Linked DNA regions of Homo sapiens. The protein of the gene in region 1 purifies or fractionates together with the protein of each later gene. This does not show direct contact. Each region holds a gene or a part of one and is shown on either strand. Other genes may lie near its edges. The genes, in order: GIP and COL14A1.

Region 1 (7,000 bases):
GACTTAGCATAAACTTTATTGGTTTGGGTTCTCTTGGCTATTCTGGAGTGGGGCTGAGGCAGGTGCTAAGTGAAGGGCAGAATCCAGTCCTGAGCTGGGTGTGGTCAGAGTCACCGAGACCTGGGGAGAGTGGGGAAAGGAGAAGAAGGTTGTTATGGACTTGGAGTCGGCCAAGCACATTTATCCTGGGACCCAACCATTGTTGAACCCCTCCTACCTTCAAATCACCTTTTTAAATATTTTAATTTTTATCAATTTACTTTTTTTTTTTTTTTTGAGACGGAGTCTCGCTCTGTCGCCCAGGCTGGAGTGCAGTGGCGCGATCTCGGCTCACCGCAAGCTCCACCTCCTGGGTTCACGCCATTCTCCTGCCTCAGCCTCCCGAGTAGCTGGGACTACAGGCGCCCGCCTCCACGCCCAGCTAATTTTTTGTATTTTTAATAGAGACAGGGTTTCACTGTGTTAGCCAGGATGGTCTCGATCTCCTGACCTCATGATCCACCCTCCTCGGCCTCCCAAAGTCCTGGGATTACAGGCATGAGCCACCATACCCGGCCTCATTTTACTTATTTTTTAAGAGACAGTCTCACTGTGGTGCCCAAGCTGGAGTGCAGTGACTGTTTACAGATGTGATCATAGATCACTGCAGTCTTGAACTCCTGGCCTCAAGCAATGCTCCCACCTTTGCCTCATCAAATCACCATTTTAATGATAAGTAATCAAAATAATTCACAATATCCACCTTCTTACGGAGATTTTCTTACACCCTCTTCTCCATGGATCTGCTCACACTCCTGTCCCTTCTTCCCCTCCTGAGGTTCCTGTCCCAGATTTGCTCCCTCAATCCCTCCCTAGCTGCTCAGCATCAATGTCTGAAGTGTTTTGGTTTCCGTGCCTCTGTGTCTGCATCATGAGGGTCCTGTCTCACCCTTTAGGTGGACAGGTGTCTTCATAATATTTAGTGCCTCGATTCTGGGACATAAGGAATGGACTGAAGAATTTTCTAGCTGATGAGGGGGATTCAAGAGACCATTGAAGCCAGCAGTGGCCACAGAGGAAGGAAACATGCCTCTAACTATGTAGTTTCCCATCACCAGGAAGGTGCCATGGCCCAAGGGTACAGAGGGAAAGCTGAGAACAGGATGGGCTCAGCTCTGTGTGTAGGGACAGGCAGGACACAGGATGGGCTCAGCTCGGTGGGTAGGGACAGGCGGGACACAGGATGGGCTCAGCTCGGTGGGTAGGGACAGGCAGGCCACAGGATGGGCTCAGCTCTGTGTGTAGGGACAGGCAGGCCACAGGATGGGCTCAGCTCGGTGGGTAGGGACAGGCAGGCCACAGGATGGGCTCAGCTCGGTGGGTAGGGACAGGCGGGACACAGGATGGGCTCAGCTCGGTGGGTAGGGACAGGCAGGCCACAGGATGGGCTCAGCTCGGTGGGTAGGGACAGGCGGGCCACAGGATGGGCTCAGCTCTGTGTGTAGGGACAGGCGGGACACAGGATGGGCTCAGCTCGGTGGGTAGGGACAGGCGGGACACAGGATGGGCTCAGCTCGGTGGGTAGGGACAGGCAGGCCACAGGATGGGCTCAGCTCGGTGGGTAGGGACAGGCGGGACATAGGATGGGCTCAGCTCTGTGTGTAGGGACAGGCAGGCCACAGGATGGGCTCAGCTCGGTGGGTAGGGACAGGCGGGACACAGGATGGGCTCAGCTCTGTGTGTAGGGACAGGCGGGACACAGGATGGGCTCAGCTCGGTGGGTAGGGACAGGCGGGACACAGGATGGGCTCAGCTCTGTGTGTAGGGACAGGCAGGCCACAGGATGGGCTCAGCTCTGTGTGTAGGGACAGGCGGGACACAGGATGGGCTCAGCTCGGTGGGTAGGGACAGGCGGGGCATAGGATGGGCTCTGGGTGGGTAGAGACAGGCAGGTAGGGATAGGCAGGGGAGAGCATCACCTCGCCTGGAAGAGTGAGGAAGAAGAACAAATAGTAATCAGAGCTACTAACCTTGCTGAGCTCTTATTACTCCTCAAAGATGGCCCTCAGGTCTCCACTTGAATTGTCTTTTTTTTCTTTTGTTTTTTTTCTTTGTATTTTTCCACTTGCATTCTCTTACTTAAAGCTGACAACAATCCTGTGAAATGATTCTATACCTCTGATTTTAGTGAAAACACTGAGGTTCAGAAAGGCTATGTAATCAGCCAGCATGTGGAGGGGCAAAGATCTGAATCCATGTCTGATGCCCAAGCTCAAGTTAGAACCGCTGTGCAACACCACACTCCCCTACCTGAGCCTGCAGAGGTTTGTCTGATCCAGCAAGCAGGCCAACAGCTCTTGAATCAGCAAGTCCCGCAGCAAATCTTCATCGCTGGGGTTCTTGGCTGGGGAGCTGCAAGGGAACAGTCTCTGGCTAACTATTTTAGCCTGAGCTTCGCCCAGAGAGGGTAAACACAGGGTTGGGGACACCACTGAGGGGCAGCCGCGGATGGGGGGAGGGAGCCGACACAGCTATCTCTCCGTTGGCTCAGCTCTGAGATCTGGAGCCTCCTTTCTGCCAGCCCCACCCAGCGCTGCCTGCCTGGGGAATATGGACTCTTCATACAGGGAGAGTCAAACAGAATTCTGGTATGAGATATTCTGCCCATCCACCTCTGCCAGTGTTCCAGAATGCAGAGAGTACTTTGGGCACATTCACTCTTTGAAATGACCTGTGCCATTCAGAGAGGGGATAACTGATTTCAGGGGAGTGGGCCTGGGAAGATCCCCCGCTCTTTCACAAACAGTCTTCCCGAGGTTTGGCAGGGAGAGGTGGTGAGGCCAGGACCTGAGGTCTCTTCTTTCCTGCCCTTCTCCTGACTCAGTGACTGTGCTGTGCATGCAGTCATCAATATTAGAAACCCTGTCCCTGAAACCCCTCCTAGCACCCCTCCCGTTTCTCCAAGGCTTCTTCCTTAAGCTTGGGCTGACCTCCAGGAGTTTGCTCAATGAAGACCCCTCTTTGAACTCTGAGAGGAAGAGGATGCTTATCTCAGGTCCTTGCTCTGCTCTGGGGTCAGGGAGAGGGAACAAAGAGGTGGGGGCGGGGCAGGAGGCTTGGCTCCCTCCCTTCCCTCTGCGCCCTGACTCACCTCTGTGGCTCCACTGCCTCCTCCTCCTTCCTATTAGCTTGACTGGCCAGCTCCAGCGCCCGAGCCTCCCTCTGGGTGATGTTGTGTTTCCAGCTGGGAAGATAAAGATTAGAGAGTGGGCAAGCTGCGGAGACTCCAGTCTAGGGACACTTGAATCTTTTAATATCTGAACCCCAAAAGCAGAGGGTACCTTTTTCCACTCAACCCCACCTAACAGTGGTCTTCAGCTGCCTCCACCAGTGAACAGCTTTTCAGAATCTACCGTGCTGACCAGAGAGGGCGGGGAAAGAGACTTGGCATAGAGCAGGGAGAAGGACGAGGACAGTTAATCTTCTCTTCATTTTTTTTGGTGTGTGTGTGAGAGACAGGGTCTGGCTGTATTGCCCAGGCTGGAGTGCAGGGGCACCATCTCAGCTCACTGCAACCTCTGCCTCCCAGGCTGAAGCCATCTTCCCATCTCAGCCTCCCGAGTAGCTGAAACTACAGGCAGGCATCACCACACCCAGCTGATTTTTGTACTTTTTGTTTGCCATGTTGCCCAGGCTGTTCTCGAATGAACTCGTGAGCTCAAACAATCCACCTACCTGGGCCTCCCAAAGTGCTGGGATTACAGGTGTGAGCCACCATGAACAGCCAATCCTATTTTCTTTCCTTTTTCTTTGAGACGGAGTCTCGCTCTGTTGCCAGGCTGGGGTGCAGTGGTGCAATCTCAGCTCACTGCAACGTCCGCCTCCAGGGTTCAAGCAATTCTCATGCCTCAGCCTCCCGAGTAGCTGGAATTACAGGCACGTGCCACCACACCCAGCTAATCTTTGTATTTTTAGTAGAGACGGGATTTCACCATGTTGGCCAGGAGGGCCTCAAGCTCCTGACCTCGTGATTTGCCCGCCTCAGCCTCCCAAAGTGCTGGGATTACAGGTGTGAGCTACTGGGCCTGGCCCTAGCCAATCCTGTTTTCAAAGTCTAAAGTGGCCACCGCCAAGCAAGCAGTCATTAGAAGGAGCTCGTCTCTCCCTTGCTTCATCCTCAGACCCCTGGGGATCCTCTCTGAGCTCCCATACATCTTCTGACTCCTCCCCTTTGAAGTAAAGGATTAGGGCCAACACAGTGGCTCACACTTGTAATCCCAGCACTTTGGGAGGCCGAGGAGGGCAGATCACGAGGTCAGGAGATCGAGACCATCCAGGCCAACACGGTGAAGCCCCGTCTCTACTAAAAAAATGCAAAAAAATTATCCGTGCATGGTGGCGGGCACCTGTAGTCCCAGCTACTCAGGAGGCTGAGGCAGGAGAATGACGTGAACCCGGGAGGCGGAGCTTGCAGTGAGCCAAGATTGTGCCACTGCACTCCAGCCTGGGTGACAGAGCAAAAAAAATCCGTCTCAAAAAAAAAGAAGTAAAGGATTAGGGAATAGCCCTGGTCCCTACCCCTAGCCTAGACTGGTGCCCAAGTCAGGGTCCTGGCCAGAGCTACCATGTCTGACTCCCCATCCTTGCCTGGTGAAAGGTGCCACCCAGGCTGGGTGTGGTGGCTCACACCTGTAATCCCAGCACTTTGGGAGGCCAAGGCAGGTGGATCACCTGAGGTCAGGAGTTCGAGACCTGCCTGACCAACATGGAACCCCGTCTCTACTAAAAATACAAAATTAGGCCAGGCGCAGTGGCTTATGCCTGTAATCCCAGCACTTTGGGAGGCTGAGGTGGGCGGATCACGAGGTCAGGAGTTTGAGAACCAGACTGGTCAACATGGTGAAACCCTGTCTCTACTGAAAAAAAAAAAAAAAATTAGCCAGGTATGGTGGCGCGTACCTGTAGTCCCAGCTACTCAGGAGGCTGAGGCAGAAGAATCGCTTGAACCCAGGAGGTGGAAGTTGCAGTGAGCCAAGATCGAGCCACTGCACTCCAGCCTGGGCAACAGAGCTAGACTTCGTCTCAAAAGAACAACAAAAAAATACAAAATTAGCCAGGCGTGGTGGCACATGCCTGTAATCCTAGCTACTCGGGAGGCTGAGGCAGGAGAATCGCTTGAATCCAGGAGGTGGAGGGTGGAGGTTGTAGTGAGCAAAGATTGCGCCATTGCACTCCAGCCTGGGCAACAAGAGCAAAACTCTGTCTCAAAAAAAAAAAAAAAAAAAAAAGAGAGAGAGAGGCGGGGTATGGTGGCTCACGCCTGTAATCCCAGCACTTGGGAGGCCGAGGCAGGTGGATCACGAGGTCAGATCGAGACCATCCTAGCTAACACGGTGAAACCCCGTATCTACTGAAAATACAAAAAAAAAAAAAAATTAGCCGGGCATGGTGGCAGTTGCCTGTAGTCCCAGCTACTCAGGAGGCTGAGGCAGGAGAATGGCGTGAACCCGGGAGGCGGAGCTTGCAGTGAGCCGAGATCGCGCCACTGCACTCCAGCCTGGGCGAAAGAGTGAGACTCCATCTCAAAAAAAAAAAAAAAAAAGAAAAGAAAAAGAAAGGTGCCACCTGGGGTTGTGCATCATGTGGCCTGTGTGGCCACAGCCGGTGGCCTCCTCTGAAGGTAGGAAGGCAGAGCCCGGCACAGGGAACAGGAGGAGTGTAAGCAGCGACTCACTCATTCTTCTTCCCCTTTTGGGCCAGCAGCCAGTTCACAAAGTCTTGTTGGTGAATCTTGTCCATGGCAATACTGTAGTCACTGATGAAAGTCCCTTCCGCGTACCTGGGGCCTCGAGGTTGAGGGCTGCTCACCTTAGCATGAGATCCAACAGGCAGGGAGGGGAGAGCGCTGGAAACAAGGGTGCGGAGAAGGGGCAGAGATGGGGGGAGAATCACAATGCTAGGGTAAATGACTGTCACTAACAGGAGGCAGACACTTGAAAACAAACCAGTCCGTTTTTATGGAGACTCCCTGTGGATCCACTCCCCCACCCCACCCCAGGCTTTATCCTCAGCTCCAGGGCCCACTTCCTGCAGCCTCAGTGTGTGTGGCTCTGGATTCTGGGCAAAAAGAGATCACGGGGCCAGGGGCGGTGGCTCATGCCTGTAATCCCAACACTTTGGGAGGCCAAGGCAGGCGGATCACCTGAGGTCGGGATCGAGACCAGCCTGACCAACATGGAGAAATCCCGTCTCTACTAATAATACAAAAATTAGCCAGGCGTTGGCAGGGCGTGGTGGCTTACGCCTGTAATCCCAGCACTTTGGGAGGCTGAGGCGGGCGGATTACAAGGTCAGGAGATCGAGACCATCCTGGCTAACACAGTGAAACCCCGTCTCTACTAAAAATACAAAAAATTAGCCAGGCATGGTGGTGGGCGCCTGTAGCCCCGGCTACTCGGGAGGCTGAGGCAGGAGAATGGCGTGAACCCGGGAGGCGGAGCTTGCAGTGAGCTGAGATTGCGCCAGTGCACTCCAGCCTGGGAGACAGAGCGAGACTCCGTCTCAAAAAAAAAAAAATTAGCCAGGCGTGGTGGCACATGCCTGTAATCCCAGCTACTCAGGAGGCTGAGGCAGGAGAATCACTTGAACCTGGGAGGTGGAGGTTGCAGTGAGCTGAAATCGTGCCATTGCACTCCAGCCTGGGGAACAAGAGCAAAACTTCGTCTCAATAAAAAAAAAAAAAAAAAAGGCTGGGTGCGGTGGCTCACGCCTGTAATCCCAGCACTCTGGGAGGCCAAGGTGGGTGGATCACAAAGTCAGGAGATTGAGACCATCCTGGCTAACATGGTGAAACCCCGTCTCTACTAAAAATACAAAAAAATTAGCCAGGCGTGGTGGCAGGCGCCTGTAGTCCCAGCTACTTGGGAGGCTGAGGCAGGAGAATGGCGTGAACCCAGGAGGCGCTGCTTGCAGTAATCGGAGATCGCGCCACTGCACTCCAGCCTAGGTGACAAAGGGAGAC
Region 2 (7,524 bases), on another chromosome or scaffold:
CAGCTTAAATAAACAAATTTAGATCACCAAGTGAAATCAAAGCCAAGTGTATTTGCACAACTCAAGAATGATGTGAATGGATTAGAATCTCTCATAGTGTATACTTCGCCATTTATACACAAACTTTGAGAGTCTTCTGAGTGACATGGTATTTAACTTTGTTTCCAAGGGCCAAATACTAAAATGTATAGAATATCCTACTCTATACTCACTATTAAATGTCATGGACTAGGAAATCTGAGACACAGAATAAGAAGCAACTGATTACACACCCTAGTCATTTAAGTTGGAAGAGTTCTCTTAGGTGACTCTGGGTCAGGCCATCTTGATGAGCCTTAGACAAGTTTTCCTTCCCATAAATCCTGCTTTCTCAGGCAGAATCATATACCATAACTGAAAGGAAATGGCTGCTGATTATCTGCTCATTATCTTCTTTCATTCCCTGCAAAGACACCAAAAAAACTGATTTGTTTAGAACCGCCCCCCGCCCCTGCCCCACCCCACCAAAGGCACACAAGTAGATTGTTTGAATCCTTCAGATGAAGTCTGAAGATGAATCATCTGAAGAATCCTTCAGATGAAGATGAAAGGAGATCTTTCATCTCCAAAGATCAGGAGATTATGAGAAGGACAGAAAGAGAACCTGGTGATCAGACAGACACCATCCTTCGTGTTAGCCTTTTCCTGATCCAGAAAGAATCCAGCTTCTAGTTGTAAATGATCCCATCCCTACTTTCTAAAGTTAGCTGTTACTAGGGAGATGTTACAGAGAAGGAGCACGTATTAAATTTATGGTTCTCTTTTGTTTCTATTTCAACTAGCACATAATAGAATTCAAATCTTTCTCAAATACCTAGATTTTTCCTTTGTGAGCAAAAGACAAAGTATGGTTTAAGGGTTAGAGTCTATTAGATTCAACCTCATTTCTGCTCTGCCTTCTAGGGGTTTTTAGGCTTTCCTCAATATCAGAAGATAGGTGGGCTCCTCAGTCAACTATTGATAAACATTTATTTAGCAGAGGTCATGCATTTGCAGGGTCTTTGCTGCCTGCTAGATTATAAATGAACAATAAAATGTCGCTAATCTCTTAGTCCCAAGTTAACTGCTTCTTCTGTTTTCTACTGCACTCAGAATGAATGAATGAGTGAGTGAGTAAACGAATGAATGAAAGTTTGAATGCTTACCTAAAGGAAGACAACTGTTGTCTTTCTGGTGGACACTCAGTTAAGACTACAAAAGCTTAAGGTGATACTTAGAAATGCAGGAAAAAGAATCCACATACATTGTTTTAAAGTTTTATTTGCTTACAAAAGAAAATGGAAATAGGTTTGCGAAAACTTATCTGCATGTACAAAGTAATCCCCGTAGATAAGGAGAGGCAACCCCTGGAACACACTGCTGGATAAATCGTTCATTAAAATTATATCTCTTTGCATCAGAGCTGGTGGAAAATCATTATTTCACATGAGTTAAAACCACTGAAAAACTAAATCTGTTTCTTAAACTACCAAATTCAGAAAGCTTAAATCCAAATGCTGATTTTTGGATACACATGAAACCAGTTACCAAGTGATCTCAGAGTTGGACAGATCAATTAAACAAGAGGTAGTTTCTCCAATATTGTCCCTTTTTTTCTTATCAGCAAGGTTATTCCTACAGCAAGTAGGAGTAAGTGACATATTCTTTGAACCTCTTTGAATTCTTTTCCTGCTAGGGACATATTTCCCTCAAACACAATCATATCTGTTTGTTCATTTTAGGACTTGAGAGAGAAGATTCCAGAGTTCAATTTATTTTTCCCAATTCCTCTTTGAGCTCTCTTCTCTGGAAAAACAAATTATCTGACATGCCATTAAGACACCAAAGGGAAATCATTGCTACCATGTCATAGATTAAGGGAACTTTTTAAAAATATATATTTTTTGTTAATAATAATAATAATATTAACATTATCCAAGGAGGAGATTTAGGCTGCTGAAATGAGCCCTGCCCCCCAAAAGTAGCATACAAACCACATAACAACATTTTCTCAAACAAGATTCCTTAAGAGTTCTTGCAGTTGGTCTTCAAATTTCTCCTGAGGCTATCAGACTCCAGGGCCCCACAGTTCCATGGCTTCCAGCTCATCTTGGACAGGGGTGAACTCTGGCTGATCTGGATGGGGAGCTAAAGAGGAAAAGTGGGGGTGGGGACTTGCTGCACCCAGGAATCATAAATTGATATTCTCCCCTCACCTGGGTCCTTAGAGACACAGAGATATCCTGCTGGGTAAAAAGCAGTGGATGTCTTAATCCACCACGCCCCTTGTACCTTCCCCATAAGGTTTCAGACAGTTAGTAAATAGACGAAGGGAAAGATACATTACAGAAATTGTTAGAAAACTAGAATCATAACCAACCATTTAAATATTATGTTTTATTTACAGAAGAAACCCTGAAAACTCAGCAAAATTATAAAAGAAATAGAAATTTTTTTAAAAAATCTCATGTTAGAAGTCCATCACCAGGGAAGAGCAGGGAGGGGAGGTGATCAGGGGAGGAAGGGAGAGTAGGGTGGTCAAGGAGAAAGATGCCCATCCATCCTGTGTGGGGAGAGGAAGGAGGAAGAGGCACAGTTAAGTAACTTTATTATGAAGCTGTCACACAGGGGAGTCTGGGATAAATTCTTGGCACACGATCATATACCTCTATCCAGGCTGACATGGAGCAGTCAGTGTCTATTAAAATAGACATATATGATTTGGTTAAGTTCCGATGTTATCACTCCATCATGTTTGGAGCAGAGTGGGCAAGAGGTTTGAAAGTGGGAAGGCAGGGATGCAGAAGAAGCAGGGAAGCAGAGTGTCCATTGTTAGGGGCAGGGGCTTGGTGGTGGTGGTGGTTGACAGGACAGTTCTGTATCCACAGCTAAATGTCTGGGGCCAATGGAACCAGAGTGGAGGATTTCCACTTCAGTGCTGGTAATCATTGTAGGGGATCAGATCTTAATAAGGATAGGAGTATTTGAGAGAACAGGGAGGGAAAAGATGAACAGAGAAAAACACATCAGCAAAACTTTGTTGACCAATTCCTGTGATAACTAAGGTTAAATTTCTACTGAAGCAGAAAATTTTAAACCCATTAACTAGTAAGTTCATGGCCCCACAGCAGTCCCTCAGCCTCTCCCTTGATGCTTCCAAGAGTGACTATGTCAGAAAAGGGGCCATTGCACAGCACGCCAGCATGCACACTGCAGATGTTTTAGGAAGCATATTCTTTTAGTCCAGTAGCTAGTGATAAGACAAGGACAGCATGATTTTTGTTTCCTCTCACAACTATTCTTGGTCACCTAAAATGTGGTGCTTAAATGCACCTAAATGCAAGTGGTATGCATGATTTCATTGAAAATAATCTAAGGAGCCCTCTTAATTACGGGAGAAGTTCTAAGTTTGACATTTCCCCAAACCAAGAGTAAAATTTTATGGGACGTCTTGGCCACATCACAGCTGTCACATAAGAATGGAGACTCCAAAAGAATGTTCAACCATGTCCTCCAAATGTGCTAAATACAAAGTCAGAGGCCAAGTCTATGTAGGTCATCACTGGGAAGCAAGGAAGACTTAGATGTGCTGTTATTTTGAATTTGCTCTTAAGGTTTTTAAGGGAGTAGCCTCTATAGCAATTTGCACTTTATAGAAAATGTCTCGGGATAATTTAAGGAAGTGAGGCATTCAAGCTCTGCTTCCCATTCATAACCAATTTAACTTTTTTCATAGCACTATCTTCCCATTTTGGTACTAAGCATACTAAAACATTGATCAAAGCCCACAAGCGGGGCTTTTTGTGACACTTACCTCTCACACCATAGGCAGAACATGATGAGGGGTCACAATATCCAGGCTGGCCAGAAGGACCTTGGGGTCCAGGAACCCCCAGATGACCTGGTGGGCCTCTTGGTCCAGGAGAGCCAGGGGGCCCAGGGCTGCCAGGCCGACTCTCCCCTGAAGGTCCTAAGAAGTACCCACAGATGAAAACCGTTGGTCTTTTGCCACAACAGGGTGAGTTTTGAGACAACCAAGAAGTAAACTAACTCTTAGAAGAAGCAACTTTTAGGACAATTAGGACAACCTCTTTCTACTCATTGAGTTCTTTTTTGTAGACTGGATTCCCTAGGCAGAGGGTCATAGTGTAATCACTTATCCTCCTGGAGGTCAATGCTCTCAATCAGCTCAGGAAACTGGCAAGCAAAATGCATCTTTTCTATTTCCTCTTGGATGTTAAAGGGAAAGGAACCTTCCATTATCAACCTTATTTTCTTTTTGGAGCTTTTGTTTCCCAATGCAGTTCCTTATGAATCCAATCTATGGGCGTGCACACACACAGACACAAACATGAACACACTCAGAGCTCAACCTCATCATCTAGTTAGAATAGCCATGCAATTCAGTACCAGTTTATGGCCCCAGATAATTAAAGCTCAACCTCATCAACAGTTAGAATAGCCATGTAATTCAGTACTGGTTTATGGCCCTAGATAATTAAAGTAAATTTGTATGAGTGTGAAATTGTCCTGGAGGGGACCAATGACAAGTTTGACATTCGACCCAATATACTAATCCAAAATTTCTTTAAGCTAGTTTACATTAATTGAGAATTCAGACTGAGTAAAAATAGGAGGATTAAAACTGTTGTGAATTGAAGAAATTTGTCAGCATGTTTTTTTTTTTTTTTTTGGCTTGTATGCTTGTTTTTAGGTCCGGGTTCCAACAGTGTTGAAAAGGCATTCTTCAACTATAATGGAATTTCTCAACTAGAACTGAAATGAAAAGTAGGAACAAGTATCACCTTCTATTTGAATAGCGTGGTGGCTCTCATATATTCAGCTCCTCAATCAGCACTCACCAACCACCCATTCTGTGTAATGTGTAATGTTATATCAGTTCCTCACATTGTCTCTAATAACAGAAATATTTACACTCAAAATGAATTGCATTAGGAACCTCTCTCAGAAAAAGTATTTTCCAAAATCCTTACTAGATTGGAAAGAAAAATCTGTAAAGCACTTTACTTAATGTGGCTAAGACTGACATTATAAATATATATTATAATAAGATTGCAAATTATAATAATTCTAATATCAAGCCTGATCATCTGGAGACCATTCTAAAAGCATATAATACACAAAACTCAAAACTTTTACAGAACTCATTCAGTAAGATTACCATGGCAGGAAATACTAGTGCTCACCAAATAGCCCTGTATTTCTCTAAATTTTGTGTCTGCCTTGCAGTTCAGTTGGGGCTAGGTGATTAGTTCCAGACAATAAAATGTGAATGGAAGTGACATCTCATTCTGTTTAGGAAGTTGAGACCGGTGTGCCTTCTTTTTTTTTTTTCGAGACAGGGTCTCCCTCTGTCACCCAGGCTGGAGGGCAGTGGCACCATCACGGTTCACTGTAGCCTCAACCTCCAGAGCTCATGTGATCCTCTGTTTCAGCCTCTCAAGTAGCTGGGACTACAAGCACATGCCACCACGCCTGGTTAAATTTTTGTATTTTTTTTTTTTTGGTAGAAATGGGGTTTCGTCACATTGCCCAGGCTGGTCTCAAACTCTTGGCCTCAAGTGATCCTCTTGCCTCAGCTTCCCAAAACGCTGGGCTTACAGGAGTGAGCCACCGCACCCAGCCCGATGTGCCTTCTTTTTCTTTCTCTTGGAGGCTACATGATTCACCATGGAGGTCATGGGTTCTGAGATGGAAGAGAGCTACCTTATTCATATGAAACTTTGTGTGATTGTGAAATAAAGCTTTATTGTGTAAATCCACTAAGCATTTGGGATGTATTTGTTACTATAGCATAGTCTGTCCTATCGCAACTCACACAAACAATAAGATCCCAGAATATGCTCTAACTTTTTGGTCTTGTATATTGGGAGGATCCTTATTAACAAAGAAGCCTCCCAATAAAACAAGTAAGAAATACAGCCATTTAAGTTACATACTAGGATGTAAGATGACCATTTTCCTCACTTGCAATGCCAAGTGAATATAAAAATATACATTTGCAGTCTCTTGTTAGGAAGGAAGATTTACCTGCTGGTCCAGGGGGGCCTCTTGGACCTTGGGTTCCAACGCCTGGATTTCCTTTTTCTCCTTTGATACCAGTTAGACCTGTTTAAAATAATTTTTAAAAATGTTTAAAGTTCTTTTTAAAAGAAAATCTTGGTAGTTCCATTTTTCTGGAGTTCGAAAGTGCTTCTCTGATGAAGACAATTAAGTGGGTTCGTTTGGGGTTATGAGTACCATGGGACTTTTAAATTACATTCTGACATTGGTAGTATATGTAGAATCACATGTTGAAGTCTGGTTCTGTATTTGAGTGTGTGGTCTGTATTTGCTATTCTGCCAGTCTCTCTTTCTCCTTCCTACTGAAGTCACACAGCCTGCCAAGAACTGGTCCTTGTCTTTGCACGCACCAGGCCACTGGACTTATGCAGCTGGCACTCCACAAGTAACACAATAGAAATCACAAGTGAACACGTCTAACATTTTCCTTTTGGTCCACTCTGTAATGTGTCTGCAAAAGGCATGAATTGTAATTAGGCAGCAACATTCTGAAGAGCGTGAGTTTCCATTAAAACTTGGAAGCTTCAGAAAAGCCTGTGTTTGATTTGGCTGATTCAGCCCCATAAAAATCTAAATCTATTCATGTTTCTTTTCCATGGAGCAGACCTCTTATAATTTACAGTGCTATTAACAAACTATACATTTTCACAGGCAAACAACAAAGAAACATATACTCTGACACCTCATTATCTAAACAGGTCCTATCACAAGATCACTTGAAAGGTGAGAGCGCCTATATTGAGGCCCAAGATACGGTTGCATTAGACTGGGGTCTGGGTTACCCTGGCTTACATCATAGAAGATCTTTGCTGTCTGTTTTTTTGTGTACAACAATGCTTTGAAATAGCAGCATGCAGAACAGCATCTCTGTTTAATTATACCTACTGAGAAATTATGTTGAATTGGCAAAGCCTAGAAGGAAACATCAATAAGTGAAAAATGGCCAATTTGACAGGTAGCAGGCATGGAAAGGCCTTGCAATTTTTTAAAATTGCAAATAACTATTTGTTTACTTTAAATATAATGCATATTCACTGTCAACAAATTAGATGTAACAAGCAAGATGCTAGCACTTGAAAATAATCACTTTTAACATCTTAGTTTATAACTTCCAGAAAGAAAAGTGTTGATGTAGTATTTGTTCTGGAAATCACTGGTAAAGAAGACTCCGGTGAGGAACTAACAGGTTTTGGTTTTTTGTTTTTACACTGCACATATAATGGTTGTTCCTAACCTGCAGCTTTGGTATCTTTTGTGCTCCCCGTAATGATCTCTTGCAGTCAAGACATAGCCTGGCATCTCTTTTAAAAAGCTCTTCTTCTTTACTAGGAGTCATCCAGGTTGGTCTACTCATTGCTAGAATTCCCAAACACCCAATCCTATTGCATGTCACCTTGATGGTGCTATCTGAGCTTACAAAAG

What was found.
Region 2: the proteins of GIP (region 1) and COL14A1 purify together in Homo sapiens (affinity purification with mass spectrometry; 2 studies listed by BioGRID and IntAct, with this or other methods). This does not show direct contact.

What each region holds. Positions count from the first base shown.
Region 1 is NC_000017.11:48,958,597-48,965,596, forward strand, and holds part of GIP (gastric inhibitory polypeptide preproprotein), read right to left. Parts: intron 5,885-7,000; coding exon 5,714-5,884; intron 3,224-5,713; coding exon 3,131-3,223; intron 2,392-3,130; coding exon 2,290-2,391; intron 121-2,289; coding exon 111-120; 3' UTR 1-110. UniProt on the Homo sapiens protein: Potent stimulator of insulin secretion and relatively poor inhibitor of gastric acid secretion.
Region 2 is NC_000008.11:120,365,794-120,373,317, reverse strand, and holds part of COL14A1 (collagen alpha-1(XIV) chain isoform 1 precursor), read right to left. Parts: intron 6,148-7,524; coding exon 6,070-6,147; intron 3,989-6,069; coding exon 3,833-3,988; intron 2,983-3,832; coding exon of another isoform or gene 2,951-2,982; exon of another isoform or gene 2,582-2,950; coding exon of another isoform or gene 2,484-2,581; exon of another isoform or gene 2,167-2,483; coding exon 2,087-2,166; 3' UTR 1-2,086. UniProt on the Homo sapiens protein: Plays an adhesive role by integrating collagen bundles. It is probably associated with the surface of interstitial collagen fibrils via COL1.